Linked DNA regions of Homo sapiens: region 2 is linked to region 1. The links come from fine-mapping of genetic effects on gene expression. Tissue or cell type: cerebellum. Region 1 holds a variant in brackets; the other region holds the start of a gene. All regions are shown on one strand. Distances are between the middles of the regions.

Evidence for each region. PIP is the estimated chance that this variant, and not a neighbour inherited with it, causes the effect.
Region 2: it holds the start of CACNG5, and the variant in region 1 is the best candidate, but not a certain one, in a credible set for the expression of CACNG5 in cerebellum (GTEx, PIP 0.86).

Annotation. Positions count from the first base shown.
Region 1 is chr17:66,760,390-66,768,988 of GRCh38, reverse strand. The region is part of intron 13 of PRKCA (protein kinase C alpha); the gene reads right to left. Among named protein-coding and RNA genes, the nearest start is that of MIR634, 22 kb to the left of the region's middle. The variant C/G (reference allele first, on the strand shown) is at 4,596.
Region 2 is chr17:66,830,467-66,837,171 of GRCh38, reverse strand. It overlaps CACNG5 (calcium voltage-gated channel auxiliary subunit gamma 5), which reads right to left and starts at 2,055. Exons shown (of 6, transcript NM_145811.3): 1 at 1,922-2,055. RefSeq lists an enhancer at 6,378-6,705.

The sequences.
Region 1 (8,599 bases):
GTATCAAGTCTGCTTATCCATTCTCCACTTAGCACATGCTTAGTACACTTAACCTACACCCTTAAGCAAAGGAAAAAAATCCATTAAAACTGCTCGGCCAACTCCTGAAAGCCACTACTTACCTCCCAATATGGTTTGTGTCCATAAACCATATCGTGTCCCCACCCAAATCTCATCTCAAATTGCAATCCCCACCTGTTGGGGGAAGGTCCTGGAGGGAGGTGATTGGCTCATGGGGGCGGATTTCCCCTTGCTGTTCTCCATGATAGTGAGTGAATTCTCACAAGATCTGATGGTTTAAAAGTGTTTGGCGCTTCCCGCCTTGTTGTCTCTCTCTCTCTCCCCTGCTCCGCCATGGTAAGACATGCTTACTTCCCCTCTGCCTTCCGCCATGATTGTAAGTTTCCTGAGACCTCCTAGTCATGCTTCTTGTTAAGCTTCTTTACTTCGGAAATTACCCAGTATCAGGTAGTTCTTTATAGCAGTGTGAAAATGGACTAATTGCAGTGGGGGGATAATTTCACTTCAATTCCAGTGGTGTAAAACCTAGGTTAATGATAAAGATAAACCTACCCCAGAAAGCAAACTTAAAAATGAATAGGGGAAAGGCACAGTGGCTCATGCCTGTAATCCCAGTAGCTCGGGAGGCCGAGGCAAGAGGATCACTTGAGTCCAGGAATTGGAGACCAGCTTGGGCAACATAGCAAGACCCTAATCTCTCCCCCCCAAAAAAAAAAAAAAAAATGGCTGGGCATGGTGGCTCACGCTTGTAATCCCAGCACTTTGGGCGGCCCAGGCGGGCGGATCACTTGAGGTCAGGAGTTTGGGACCGGAGTGGCCAACATGGTGAAACTCTGTCTCTACTAAAAATACAAAAATTAGCTGGGTCCGGTGGCACACACCTGTAATCCCAGCTACTCAGGAGGCTGAGGCAGGAAAATGGGAGGCAGAGTTTACAGCGAGCTGAGATTGTGCCACTGTACTCTAGACTGGGCAACAGAGTAAGACTTCATCTCAAAACAAAACAAAACAAGTCAGTGGGAAGACGCTTAATAGGCTATCATATTGCCATATCAGAGAATAAATTAGAATGATAGGAGCAAACCTTCAGCATCAGATAGTATTCCCCAAACAGCCCATGTGCTCCCCTACATTTCATAATCTCCTCTGCTTTGGAGCCACATGACTAGTTCTGGCCAATGGACAGGGAGAGGAAGTGATGTTGCCCTTTTGGGTTGAGGCAATTAAAAGCCCATTTGCCTCCTGTCACTGTGATTCTAGGGGCCACCTGTTCCAGATGGCTCAGTTGCAAGATGGAGGAGGGTTGCCTGATTTGCATCAGACTGTGTGTGAGCAGTAAGGAAATATTGGTTGTGTTAAGCCACTGAGATTTCAGGGATTGCTGTGGCAGCAAGAGTTGTCCATTCTAAAAACTTCCTCCTTCATGTAAGTGAATCACACAATCTCAGCTTTTCTACAAATCCTGTCCTGACCAAGTAGAAGGGCAACAGAAATTCTCTTTGGGTGAGTGAAAATCCACCTTCTGGGCACCAAATGCAGGTTGTACCCACTACACACATCTTGTGTAATCTGATGATGCAGAGTTGTTATTACAGTCCGTCTTCACTCCGTACCAGCAGTAAGTTCTTGGAAACTGTGATTTTAAGCAAAACAACATACAGCAGGTCCTCAAATAACATCATTTCCTTATAATGCTGATGAGGGAGAAAAACCTAGTTTTGTTATACATCATTTCACTTGAAGTCACAGTTTCCAAGAACCTATCGATAATGTTAAGTGAGGTCTTACTGTATATTCTCATTTTATAGGGAGAAAATAGGTTCTCTAAGTTTAAAGACTTGCTCAAAGCCAATCAATTAATATGTGGAACTGAATACTGACACATTTATTTTAAAGATATAATTTTATCTTTTCAATGTATTTTCAAATACATTGATACTGGGATTAATGAAATATTAATCAAAGGGCCCAGAGGATTAAGATGATTTATTGGAAAGCATCATTTCAGTTGTTTTAAGTAACTATATTTCAAAAGCACTTGAATAAAATTTGCTCTTGTAACTATGTTAAACTATGTTTAACTTGGTTAAAGCCAGTCCCCACCATCTGTGTATGTTATGTTACTTGGTGTTTCATTAAATTTTTTTTTTTTTTTTTTTGAGAAGGAGTTTCGCTTTTGTTACCCAGGCTGGAGTGCAATGGTGCAATCTCTGCTCACTGCAACCTCTGCCTCCCGGGTTCAAGCAATTCTTCTGCCCCAGCCTCCTGAGTAGCTGGAATTATAGACTCCCACCACCATGCCCAGCTAATTTTTGTATTTTTAGTAGAGACAGGGTTTTGCCATGTTGCCCAGACTGGTCTCGAACTCCTGACCTCAGGTGATCCACCTGCCTTGGCCTCCCAAAGTGAGTTTGTTTTTAACAGTGGCAGGGCTGAAGCAACAGTGTTGCTGTGTGTATCAGGTAAAGGATCAGTGAGGGCTGAACAAAGGAGGTTATACTTTGTTTCCTATCCTATATTCTACAAATATCTGAGCAGTCTTGCCAACCACATCTCTCTGCTTGGGTGATGGAAACTGATGTCCGAATTGGAAAGCCATCAACAGGCAAGGGTGTGGGAGCCCTGTTTCTGGTCAGAAGGATTCATGAATCCTAAAGGCCATGGCCACCTGATTGGTTTTGCTTTAAGTTCTACAACAAGTTGGCTCCCAGCTGGCTCTTCATTTTCTATTTCCAAGGCATTAAATTCCCATGACTCCTTCTGATAACACGCTCTCCTTCCTCCAAGGCTTACCAAAAGCAGAATGCCAAGCGCCAAGGCTCGTTTTTCTCGTGACAGCACTCATCCTCATCAGCCGCATAGAGCCCGCCTGCTCAGCCACTGGGCCAAGATTACAAAGTCACTCTGAACACTGCAGTGCCTTCAATTGTAACAATAGGATGGGGTTTAGAATCTAGCCAGAGCATTTTTTCCCAGAGAAACGTGTCACCTTTGGCTTGTTGTGTACCAGATAACACGGGAGGTCCTGAAGATCTCAGTTACAGGTATAGGGCACAACCTCACCGCTGCAAATTCATTTTTGGAATAAAGCATATCTTTCTCTCAATGAGCAGTTGTGGTTAATAAATACCTCTGGTTAACCAAAGCCTCACTGTAAAAGGGAAAATAGTGTTAGAGAGCCCCACTGGAAGATAAACATTCAGATACACACGACTTAGGATGTTGGCTATACTGTCCCTATTCAGCTGTCTAGAGCCACTATCCAATACAGTGGCCACTGGCCACTTGTGGTTTCTGAGCAGATGAAATGTGGCTAGTCCAAACTGAGATGTGCTGTAGGTGTGAAATCCACATCATATTTTGAAGACTTAGTATAAAAAATGCAAAATAGCTCATATATATATATATATAAAGACATATATATATAAAGACATATATATATAAAGACAAATATAAAGACATATATATATAAAGACAAATATATATATATGGACAAATATGTATATATATGGATATATATATATATATATATATATATATATATATATAGACAAAGTCTTGCTCTGTCGACCAGGCCGGAATGCAGTGACACGATGACACGATCTCGGCTCACTGCAACCTCTGCCTCCCAGGTTCAAGCGATTCTCCCGCCTCAGTCTCCCGAGTAGCTGGGATTATAGGCACCCATCATTATGCCTGGCTAATTTTTATATTTTTGTAGAGATGGGGTTTCACCATGTTGGCCAGGATGGTCTTGAACTCCTGATCTCAGGTGATCTGCCTGCCTCGGCCTCCCAAAGCGCTGGGATTACAGGCGTGAGCCACCATGCCTGGCCTTCATTAAATGTTTTTATTAATAAATTAACTTCATCTGTTTCCTTTCCAACTTGTTAAAAACTTGGCTGCTAAACGCAGTTTCGGCTTGTATTTTACTTTTGTTGGACAGTGCTGGCTGAGACCCTCTGAATTCCACCGGCTCCTATGGCCCATTCTGGTTCTCTGGCTCTCATTGGTCTAGGGAGCCAGCTTTGGGCTGAGGACCAGGCTCAGAGACCATGGAATGGATGAGGAGACTCTCTTGTCTGTCCCCTATGGGGATAGGAGCAGGTGTCTCTGGCACTTGTGGGCCAATGTGGGCTTACAGCCAAGCCCAGGGCTGCCTGATATCCTGAAGCCCCAGGCAAGGGGCTGTGACGCCAATCTGGTTTCCCATAATGGAGAAACTCACAAAAGGAGAGGCAGAGTTGGCAAGAAGGGCTAGAGCTGGCGGATTTCCCTGCTGCACATGGGAGGTTGAGCTGTGGCTTCAAAGACAGACCCCCAACAAGGCCACTGTCATTCAATTTTACTGCTATTTGTCATTTAGATCATTATTATTATACTTACAAGAGCCAACTGCTTGGGGGAATGTCAGGATGTTACAAATGGCTGCCTGTCTTGTAAAAGTGAGATATGAATGAGCTTTCTTCCAGCCCGGGCACAGGACCAGGGCATGAAAGGGACCAGGGGGTAGCTTCTTGTCTTGTACAAGGCCAAGGGCCTGCAGCAGCTGGAAGGATGTCACTCCAAGGCCA[C/G]CCAGCCTTCCACTCTCTACCAGGGCTTCACATTCAAATGCCTCCCAGAGAGGATGGGACTCCAGGAGCTTTCTAACTTCTGAAATCTCCAGCCTGGGAGAGCTTGAGGACGGCACAGGAAGGTTTTAGATGCCACTGGCAATATTGACAGTAGCTGTAACCAACATCACCACAGTAGGCATGTGCCGAGAGCCAGGCTCTTTAGCTCTGAAGCTCACCTAATCCTCATAAGGCCCATTGCAAAGGTGAGGAAATAAGGTACAGAGAGACACAGTAGCTTGTCCAATGTTACAGAGCTTGCAAGCAGCAACGCTTGGATTAGAACCCTGGTCATCGGCTTTGGCATCCATACTTCTGACCCTTTTTCTATACTGAAGGCCTTGATCCAGTGGGGTTCCCTAGACAGCTATGGTGGGTACTCGCCCAGTTTACATGAGTCCTGCTGAAAAGGGGCCCAAATGCTTAACAGGATCAAAACAGCCAAGATGCCTCCTTCACTCAGGAGCTCTTGGCTCTAAAGGCTTTTTCTTGAAGGAACCCACGGACCTATAAAGTACGTGTGTGGAGATTCACTCTCCTGTTCTCGGCTGCACTTGAACTGGGATTTCACTCTTCATTTTTGTGCTGTATGTATACAGCAAACCCCTAGAGCCCAATCTTAAATAAAAGGCCTGGCCACAAAAGCCTCTTCCCAAGCTGTCATTACAAAATAACGGTGGCCTTTATGCATAAAACACACTCAAGTCCTTTTACTGTTTCAGGGAAACAAAGAATATCCTTTCTTTTTCAAAAAACAAAAACATTTTGATGGAAAAATTACATTTGTTTTGAAAAACATCATCCATTCCCAAGGATAGAACACAGGACCCCAGAGGCACTCTTTACATGTAACATGGTCAAAGCACTGTCTGACGCGTCCAAACAGCACCATTTGGAAAGAAAGAAGACAGGCCTGAACGTTTTCTGGGTGTTCTGATCTGACAGCTGGGATCTTGGGTTTGATAACTGTCTCCTCCACTTGCTACTGTGGGACCCACAACTCCTGGAGCCTTTGTCATGTCTACTGAGACTGTCTGCCCCTACTCAACCCAGACTTCTCCCTGGTTGGGGCTGGGCCATCCACTTCTGTACCCAGCACCAGGACCTCAGGCACGGGGCAGACACAAGGTTGTGTTGGAGAAGTAGTGGATCTGATCCAAGACCACTCCATAGACACTGCCTACCTCTAAAGTGCAAAATCAAAAGGGCTGTTAGAATTGCTGGATTGCTAAGTCTGGAGGGATGATTTAGAAAAATGTTTTCAAGCTGGGCACAGTGGCTCATGCCTGTAATCCCAGCACTTTGGGAGGCCAAGGCGATAGGATCACTTGAGGTCAGGAGTTCAAGACCAGCCTGGCCAACATGGTGAAACTCTGTCTCTACTAAAAATACAAAAATCAGCTGGACGTGGTGGCACATGCCTGTGATTCCAGCTACTTGGGAGGCTGAGGCAGGAGAATCGCTTGAACCCGGGAGGTAGAGGTTGCAGGGAGCCATGATGCACTGCACTCCGGCCTGGGTAAGAGAGTGAGACTCCGTCTAAAACAAATTAAAATAAAATAAAAAAGGTGTTTTCAGGGTTCTGAAGAGGCTCCTGAGGCTCAAAGTGGCACAGTGGCTTGCTGAGGTCATTGGGCTGGTTAACAGCAAGGTCAGGAAGAGAGAGGCCTCAGGTCTCCTGACCGTGTCCTCTTTCTAAAGCATCAGAACAGAGACCAGAGCGTCATAAACAGAAAGCCCCGCAGCAGGGGAGAAGTGAAACACCCCCAGCTCTCAATCGAGATACTTCCTAATTAAACTCCTTTCCAATGGCATAGCCAAAGCTCAGAATACAAGCGGGAAGCAGAATGAGGTGAGAGAGCTCCGAACCCAACTGCTGGAGGCCAGGAGCTGTGTGACTTTGGGCAAGTTGGTTAGCCTCTCTGAGCCTCCATTTCCTCAGCTGTGATCTTGGGATTTCAGCACCCACCTGACAAGCAGGTGGTGGGGATTAAATGGCATTATGTGTATTAAAATGTGCTTACTGCAGCTGAGTATACATAACTCCATACTGCCTAACATTAGAAATAAGAACTGGCCTACCAGAAATAAGCAGGTGGGTGAAAGTTATTCAAGGAAATAAACTAAACTTGGCTCAGAGGGGGACAGAGGAAACATTTTGGTATATGTTAAACACTCAAATGATTGTTGGCACCTGAAAATTCTTAAGCGACAATAAACCTTCCATTCGTTCTTTCAGCAAATATTAATTTACTGTGTACCAGACATAGTAAATCAGAAGTGAATCAGTTACAGAAGTGAATCAAACAGATTTTTAAAAATCTCCCCTTAGGCAATTAAATTGATTTTTTACTGGAGCAGCAAAACTTCAGGCTTCTCTGTTTTCTTATGGTATTAGGACACCCTCCTTGGCCCTCTCCTTTGCTCACTCCCACTGAGTATGGCTGACTGTACATTTCTATGGGTTGGGCACTCTGCTAGGTATCACAGATTACCAAACTAACTGGGATAACAGACAAATACGCTAAGATACGATATCCAAGATCAAGGATCTTACTATGTCACATGGGAAATGACTACAATATTTGAAATCCTTGGACAAAGTGCATTATATAAAAAAAAAAGAAAACTGGCCGGGCACAGTGGCTCACATTTGTAATCCCAGCACTTTGGGAGGCCGAGGTGGGCAGATTACTTGAGGTCAGGAGTTCAAGACCAGCCTGTCCAAAAATTAGCCGGGTGTGGTGGTAAGTGCCTGTAATCCCAGCTGCTCGGGAGGCTGGGGCATGAGAATTGCTTGAACCTGGGAGGTAGAGGTTGCAGTGAGCCAAGATCGTGCCACTGCACTTTAGCCTGGGCAACAGAGCGAGACTCCATCTCAACAACAACCACCGCCAAATAAATAAGTAAAGAAAAATAAAGAAAATTACCACAAGATTAAAAACAAAGAGTCTAGAGTCCAAACTATGTATCTTTTTTTTTTTTTGAGACGGAGTCTTGCTCTGTCACCAGGCTGGAGTGCAGTGGCGTGATCTTGGCTCACTGCAACCTCTGCCTCCCGAGTTCAAGTGATTCTCCTGCCTCAGGCTCCTGAGTAGCTAGGACCACAGGCACACGCCACCACACCCGGCTAATTTTTGTATTTTTAGTAGAGACTGAGTTTCACCATGTTGGCCAGGATGGTCTCAATCTCCTGACCTTGTGATCCGCCCACCTCGGCCTCCCAAAGTGTTGGGATTACAGGTGTGAGCCACTGCGCCCAGCCTATGTATTTTCTATTTAGACAAAAATTGTGGCTCTATGTACAATTGGAGAAAACAGAAAATGATCTCTCTAATAGTAATTACACCAATGAAAGTGCTTTAAAATCTATTTAGAGTAGCCACCCTTTTTTACCTCCCTGTAAGAATGGGAAGCAAACAGCAGAACAGCCTAAGTACCCCTCCCAAAAAAGGTCAGAAGAGGATCAAATGAAAGCAGTGTTTGCAATTGTTTATACTGGCTGCAAACAGAAGCTAATTCCTACTATACATGTTGGATTCAACTTGCTAATATTTTGTTGAGGATTTTTGCATCTATGTTCATGAGAGGTATTAGTCTGTAGTTTTCCATGCTGGTGTTTGTTTATCATCCTTTAACATCCATGGGATCTGTAGTGATGTCCTCTTTCATTTATTAGTAACTTGTGCTCTCTCTTTTTCTTAATTTGACTTGAGGCTTATCAATTTTATTGATGTTTTCAAAGAACTTCCTTTTGGGTTTGTTGACTTTCCCTGTTTTCTATTTTCTATTTCATTGGCTTCTGCTCTAGTTTTTATTTTCTTTTGCTGACTGTGGATTTAATTTGCTCTTCTTTCTCTAGCTTCCTAAGATGGAAGCTTAGGTGGTTGATTTTAGATCTTTCTTCTTTTCTAATATATGAATTCAATACTATAAGTTTCCTAAGCCCTGCTTTAATTGCACCG
Region 2 (6,705 bases), 69 kb before region 1:
CACAACACCAGCCCAGAACCACCTCCAGTAAAATGGACACTGTCATTCATTCATGACCTTACTTGATTCTCAAAACCCCCTGCCAGACCCATCTTACAGGTGAGGAGGCTGAGCCTCCAAGCATTCTGTAAGTTGGCCAGTGTCACACAGTCAGGAACCTAGCAGGGTTTGGAGCCGACGTTTTCCACAACAACCTAAGGCCAGTCTCTTCCAAACAAGCGTGAACAATTCAGCCAATCTCCCCCTGCACCAAGTCACAGAGCCCCAGCTGACAAGCCTGAGAATGGCTGAGCTCCCTCAAGTGTGCTGTTGGCTTGTGGGGCCTGGGGTGCAGCCAGCCAGGATGCTGGGGTTCTCACATCACCAACAGCCCCAGCCACAGCAGGGCCACCTCTATCTTCCGTTGAACTGGACTACCCAGCCCCTCAGCACATCCACTGCCTTCCACATGACAAGAGAGAGGAGGTTTGGGGGTGGGGAGGTCTCAGGCACAAGCACAGATTTCACCCTGTTAGGCACCCTGGGGACCTGGCCCTGAGATGAGGTGTCCCCCAGCTACCTCCAGGGGCTGCGTTAGCAGAGAAGTGAGGCAGATCTAGGGCTTCTCAGGCAGGCAGGAGACTTCGGCATGAGGGGCTGGCTACAGGGTCTGCAAAGAGGTGCCACCAACCTGCCACTGAGATGCCTGTGGTCCTGAGATACTCTGAATCCAGGACATCAGAGCCAATCAAGGTCCCACACCCACACCCAGGCAATCCTGGCTGTTAATTGATCAAGACTTCAGGTTTGTGGAAATGAGGGGAATGGGTGTGAGGTGGCTGGGAGGGGAAGCCCCATCTTGTGTTCCCCAGGATGGATGTGGAGCAGAAGCCAGCCTCGGTGACAGCTTGTATGTGACATCTGTCAAACTGAGACAGCTCCCACTTGGGGATCCTGTCCTGGGTCCTGCTCTAACCCAGTCACTGATAATCCAGTGCAAAGTGGGTGAATCCCTTCCTTTCTGGGAACAAGGGCTTCCTTAACCACCGGCGTGCCTGGCAGGTACCGGAGGCAGCCCCGGGGCAGCCCTGGAGAAGCTAGTCAGAATATGAGCTTCTTTCCTCCCCAGCCAGGCTCCCGGAATTATTTCTCAAATCATTTTCAGTCCTAGGAAGTGATAATTTGATTTCACTTTAACATTTTTAACGAGCTGCATCTTCATCAACTGCCAAATTAGGATGAGAGCAAAGATCGGGGAATCACAATGAGAGGTTTTGGAGTGATTGGGGAAATCCAAATTTGGGGTGTGCCTGGGTGGTTGACACCTCACGCCCAGCACCTGCGGTGGGGTCCCCATAGCACCACCCTGATCACCCCCGCGAGTCCATCTCTGCTCAGTGGCTCCTGGCAGGGACACCTCCTCCTATCAACCCTTCTCACAGGCGGGAGAAGGAAGCCCCGGGTCCCACGAGCTGGAGAAATGAGGCCACCCTGCAGGCTGTGATAAGCGGGGAGTTGGACCCGCATAGGCCGACAGCCCAGCTCAACAGGTGGTGGTGGGCTTATCCCTTCCTGCATTATCCGGATAATAATCTGCCAGCCCCATTCAAGTCCGTCGTGGAAAAGTCTGCCCTCAGCTTTGGCATGGGTAAATTGCCTAGAAGCGACTGCAAAGAGGGGGCGTCATCATCTCCCCCGATACATCCTTGGGACAGACAGATGGACAGACAGACACACGCACACGCGCATACACACGCCCGCGCTCCCCACCACACTGCCCCTTCCAGGGTGCGCGATCGCTAGGGCTCTCCAGCCCCTGCCCCTGGCTGGGCTGTCATGGGGGCGCAGCCCGGCGCCGCGGCCCAGCACCGGTGGGAGACCGTCCCCCAGGGACCCCCCCAGGATGGAAGAGGTGGTCTCTCCCGGTCTTCCCGGCTCTTACCTCGCTGGAGCGGCCGCGACCCCCGACCCTGGTCCAATGTCCCTCGCCGGCTGGGCGCGCGGGGCGGGAGGTACCGCGCTAGGCTGCCCGGGACGCCCGCCCCGTCCAGTCAGCCGGAACCGCTCGGCGCCAATGACCGTGGCCGCCGCCGCCGCAGCTCGCGCCCCGGACCCCGAGAGGGAGGGGCGGGCAGGGGGCGGGGCCGAGGGCGGGGCCTCCCCACCCCGGCGCTGCCAGCTGCAGGCGGGGTTTGGGACCGGTCAGATGCGGTCTCCCAGCCCGGGAGGTGAGCACCTCTGGGGTGAGCACCCTTGTGGGGGTGGCAGGTGAAGAGTTGGGGGCCGGCGTGGGAGAGGAGAGGCTTTCAGAGTCCGCATAGGGCTGGGAGACCCTGCCTGGAGTCAGACTCACCTTCAAATTCCAGCAGCTGGGGCTGCAGCCTCTGCCGTTGCTGCTGCTTTTAAATAAGGATGATGATGATGATGATGATGATGATGATGGTGATAGAACAACAATGCCAGCTAGTATTTATTGAGCACTTACTAGTGTAAGCGTTCAATGAGCTTCACATGTATTAAGTCATTTAATTCTCACACGAATCCCATTTTACAGATGAGAAGACTGAGGCACAGGGCGCTTAAGTGAGGAGTCTGAGGACACACAGCTGGAAAATGGCAGAGCCAGGACTGCAGCTCAGGCCTGTCTAAGTGCAGAATCTGAGCCTTTAAAGCCCCACTCTGCTTTTGTACTGTGTGGCCTTAAGCAAAGTGTTTGTCCCTCTTAACAGTAAAATGGTAATATATGTCCAATAAATGGTGGCAACTAACAATAAAACATTTCTTCCTTTCTTAGGTTCTATGTCTCCTTTAGTCTCTGGGTCCTGGACACCCAATAGGTGCTCAATAGATGTTTGTTAATCTATGACTAATTTGAAAGTGGCAGCTGGAGCCAGTGTGGTCAGCCAGGTTGGAAGGGGAACCCAAGGGCTAACTCTTCCTGGCCTGCATAGCCACATATCTTTTATTGCTTTGAAATGGCAGCCTGACCGATATCTTTGTCCGGCACACTTGTGCAGATGCTCACAGACCAGCAGCTTCCCCTCAAAGGCCTGTAAAATCCCTGCAGACCAAGAGGGGGTCAAAGATGTGGCATGTGGAAATATTTGGGGGCAAAGTTGGTTGCTAAATAATGAGACATCAGCAGTGAACATATTAGTTTAAAACTGTAGGGCAGAAACTTTTATAGAAGCATCTATGTTGCTGAGGTCTCCTGACATGGGAGGACTTTGTCACATGTGAATGGGGCCAGGTGGAGTTGGGACAACTGAAGGTTTTTGGAAAGGATACACCACGTGTCTATTCACAGCATTTTAGGCCTATGCAGTTTTCCGCTTTTTCTCCCTTTTCCCACCTACCCCAAGAGTGTTCTTCTCTATCCCCCAGAATACCCTGATGGAAATCCAAGAATGGATTTCTTCTTCTTCGTCTCTGGGCCCAGGAGCCTCTTGCACAGCTCTCACCAGTATGGCAATGATGAATTTACTGTCAATCTCCCTAACTATGCTGGGAGCCCCTTAAAAGGAGAAAGTCTGACGCATAGTAGGCACATTGTATTTGCTGAATGAATGACTGGAAGTTGGACACATCTCCCCAAGACTAAAGCTGTCAAGGAGAAAACCACCAAAGAAAACCTCAGAGGTGGCTGGATCAATGAAATGAAAAGATGAAAACGGGCAAAGCACCCAGGAGATGTGCCTTTTGCAAAGTCTGCAGGTCATTTTCCCAGCAAAGGCCAGAGAGGCTGGCCTGGGATCCATGCCCTGTGGGTCACCTCTGCGGGCCGTCGCCATGTCCTCCAGCCATTGAAGAGTAAGTGTATGGAGTGGGGGTGAGCAGACTGCCTGGTGTTGGGTGTGAGGAAAGGGGTGGGTGGAAGAGGGAATGTCCTCCCTTGTGGGTTAATTGAACAATCCCAGAATGTCCACTTGCCCCCTAGATAGGCCCCCTTTTTGATCTGTGTGACCCTATTCTCTGGATCATCTTGCAATGCTTATGGAGAAATAACAGATCAATTGGTTGCAGAAAACACCCTTCAAAAGGGAAGCTAGTGGCCGGGCGCGGTGGCTCATGCCTGTGATCCCAGCACTTAGGGAGGCCAAGGCAGGCAGATCATGAGGTCGGGAGATCAAGACCACCCTGGCTAACATGGTGAAACCCCATCTCTACTAAAAAACACACAAAAAAATTAGTCAGGCATGGTGGCAGGCGCCTGTAGTCCCAGCTACTCGGGAGGCTGAGGCAGGAGAATGGCATGAACCTGGGAGGCAGAGCTTGCAGTGAGCCGAGATTGCGCCACTGCACTCCAGCCTGGGTGACAGAGCAAGACTCCATCTCAAAAAAAAAAAAAAAAAAAAAAAAAGGAAGATAGTGTCCAGGGGTGCTCAAAGCCTCCTCCCCAGTCATTCTGCCCAAGGCAAGTGGGGAAGTCCCCACAACATGGGTGGTTGAAAAACAGCAATTTGGATCTGATGGAATGAGGTCTTCAACGTGGCTCTGCCCCAACTAGCTGTGTGACCTTGGACAAGTTACTTAACCTCTCTGAGCTTTCGTTCACTTCTCGATAACCAAAGCTGGCTTCATGGTTCTCAAAGCCTTGCTCTTAGGAAAGCTCTGTGCCTGGTTTGATGATCTGATTTTGCCATCTCGAAATTCTTAATCAGTTTTCAACAAGGGGCTACATCTTAATTGTTGCACCGGACTCCATAAAATTATGTCTCTGATGCTGGTGATAACGCCAACCTCACTGGTTTGCGAAAGCGAGATCATGTTTGCACAAGGGTCTGACACATTGGGGGCTCTCAGCAAAAGTTAGTTTCCCTTCCTCTGATCTGGCCGTAAATGATAAATAGAAATTCACCAGGTAGACAGAGGGCTGGGAAGGGAGTTTCAGGCAAAGGGGTCATCCTAGACGAAGGCCTGAGAATATGAAATTACATTCAGGGAAAGGCAAATGGTCTGAGGTAGGGTGGGCATGGGAAATGGAGGGAGACAAAACTGAAGAGACAACTGGGGCCAGAGTGGGAGAGGCTCCCAGTTCTTGTAAGGAGCTTGGCCCTCAGGCCCTCAGGTCTGTGATCAGGGAGCCTGGGACGTGAAGGTGGGTGAGCAACACCAACATCTGTGTCCCACGGTTGGGCCGCGGACTGGTTCAGATAATGAGACAGGCAGTGGGTGACGTGGGCGGGAGCACTGCTCGGAGGCTGCCAATACGGCGTGTTTGAAAGGCTGACTGTAGACATAATGGGAAAATGCTGTAGGTGTAAAAGCCAACAGCTGTGCTTGGGGATTTGGGGACTCCAGGCCTGATGAATAATGGAGCAGCCCTTCCACCCTGGGTCTCTTTTTCTATCCTTTTAATAATTCATGGATTCCCCATTGGTAGGGGAGTTTCATAAAACCTCAGCTCTCTCTCTGAATCCTGGGCCAGTCTGAACAAATCTGATGGCTTCACTCATTAGATCTTAATGAGAAACACACATCCATGTGCACATTATTTGCAGAATGTGCCTGTGTGGATGACAAGGAAGAGGCCCAGTTATGTCTAGGAGGAGGAAATGTCTTCCAGCCAGGCAGCCTCCTTCTGGTCCCTTGGGGGTGGAGGTGGTGACATGTGTCACTTCCAGGTGGAAGCTTTCGGAATCACTGAGTGCTTTGCCATGCTCGTCTCTCTGCCTTTGGGATTGTGGAGACAGTTGTCAAGATGGCACTCTGTCACTCTGAACTCCCACGTGATGACGAGGAGTAGAGATTCCTTACTGACCTCTGGCAGCCACATAGCATGAGCTGTATGTATCTTCTAGTACACACGGACTGGTTTATTTGAGCAAACAGATGTTGCTTCCAGTGTAGAGCAGAGATGGAATTCCAAACTCCAGATCTAAGTGGTCATCAACACTGATGTGGGACGATCAATACCAGACTGATCAATACGAGACCGATCAAGGCACCTTCAATCGTGTTGGGGATGGAGGAGACCAGAGCTTCTCAGCAGATCCAGGTCAAGTTTGAGATGAGCAGTATCTGAAAATGTGCAGAGTGTGCATACGTGTGTATGTCAGGAGGCTGGGGGAGAGGGAAGAGGGCCCCATGAAGTTGGGAGGGGGTGTAGGCAGAAAAACCTGGTCAAGGTCAGAGCAAGAAGAATTGAGCTCACTGTGGAGTTGCCCCTATAAATAATAATATTTATTGGCTAATAATAATAATATTAATCCCCACTACAGCTAATATCAATTACATGCCACGCACTCTGCTAAGTGCTTACCATGTGTTAAGACATTTAATTTTCACAACAGCCCTCTGAGCTAGGACAATTGCTAGCCCCTATTTCCAGATAAGGCTATGGAGGATTAAAAAGGTAATTTGCCCTACATATGGCCAAATTCTAGTGCTCAAAGGAGAATGGCACATTGAGGCTCCATCCACATCAGCATCACCCATGCTGTGAGTGGGCACAACAGCTGGAATCTTTAGGCCAGCTGTCAGGGCTTAAGCATGCAAAAGTTGGTCTCAGCAGGGGACCCAGGGAGCTGTGTCAGAGCCATGTAGCCTGGATGACTGAGCAAACAGGGAAGGCGGAGGTGACAGTCGCTGGCAAGGAGGCCCAAGGAATACTGTGCTTCAGAAAGCAAGAGGCTGATTGTCCATTCTGCTTCACGCAGGAGGCTGGGCCACCAAATGGCACTTCCTGTCCGAGCTGGTTGGTGGGGACCTAGAAGGTGGGGCTGT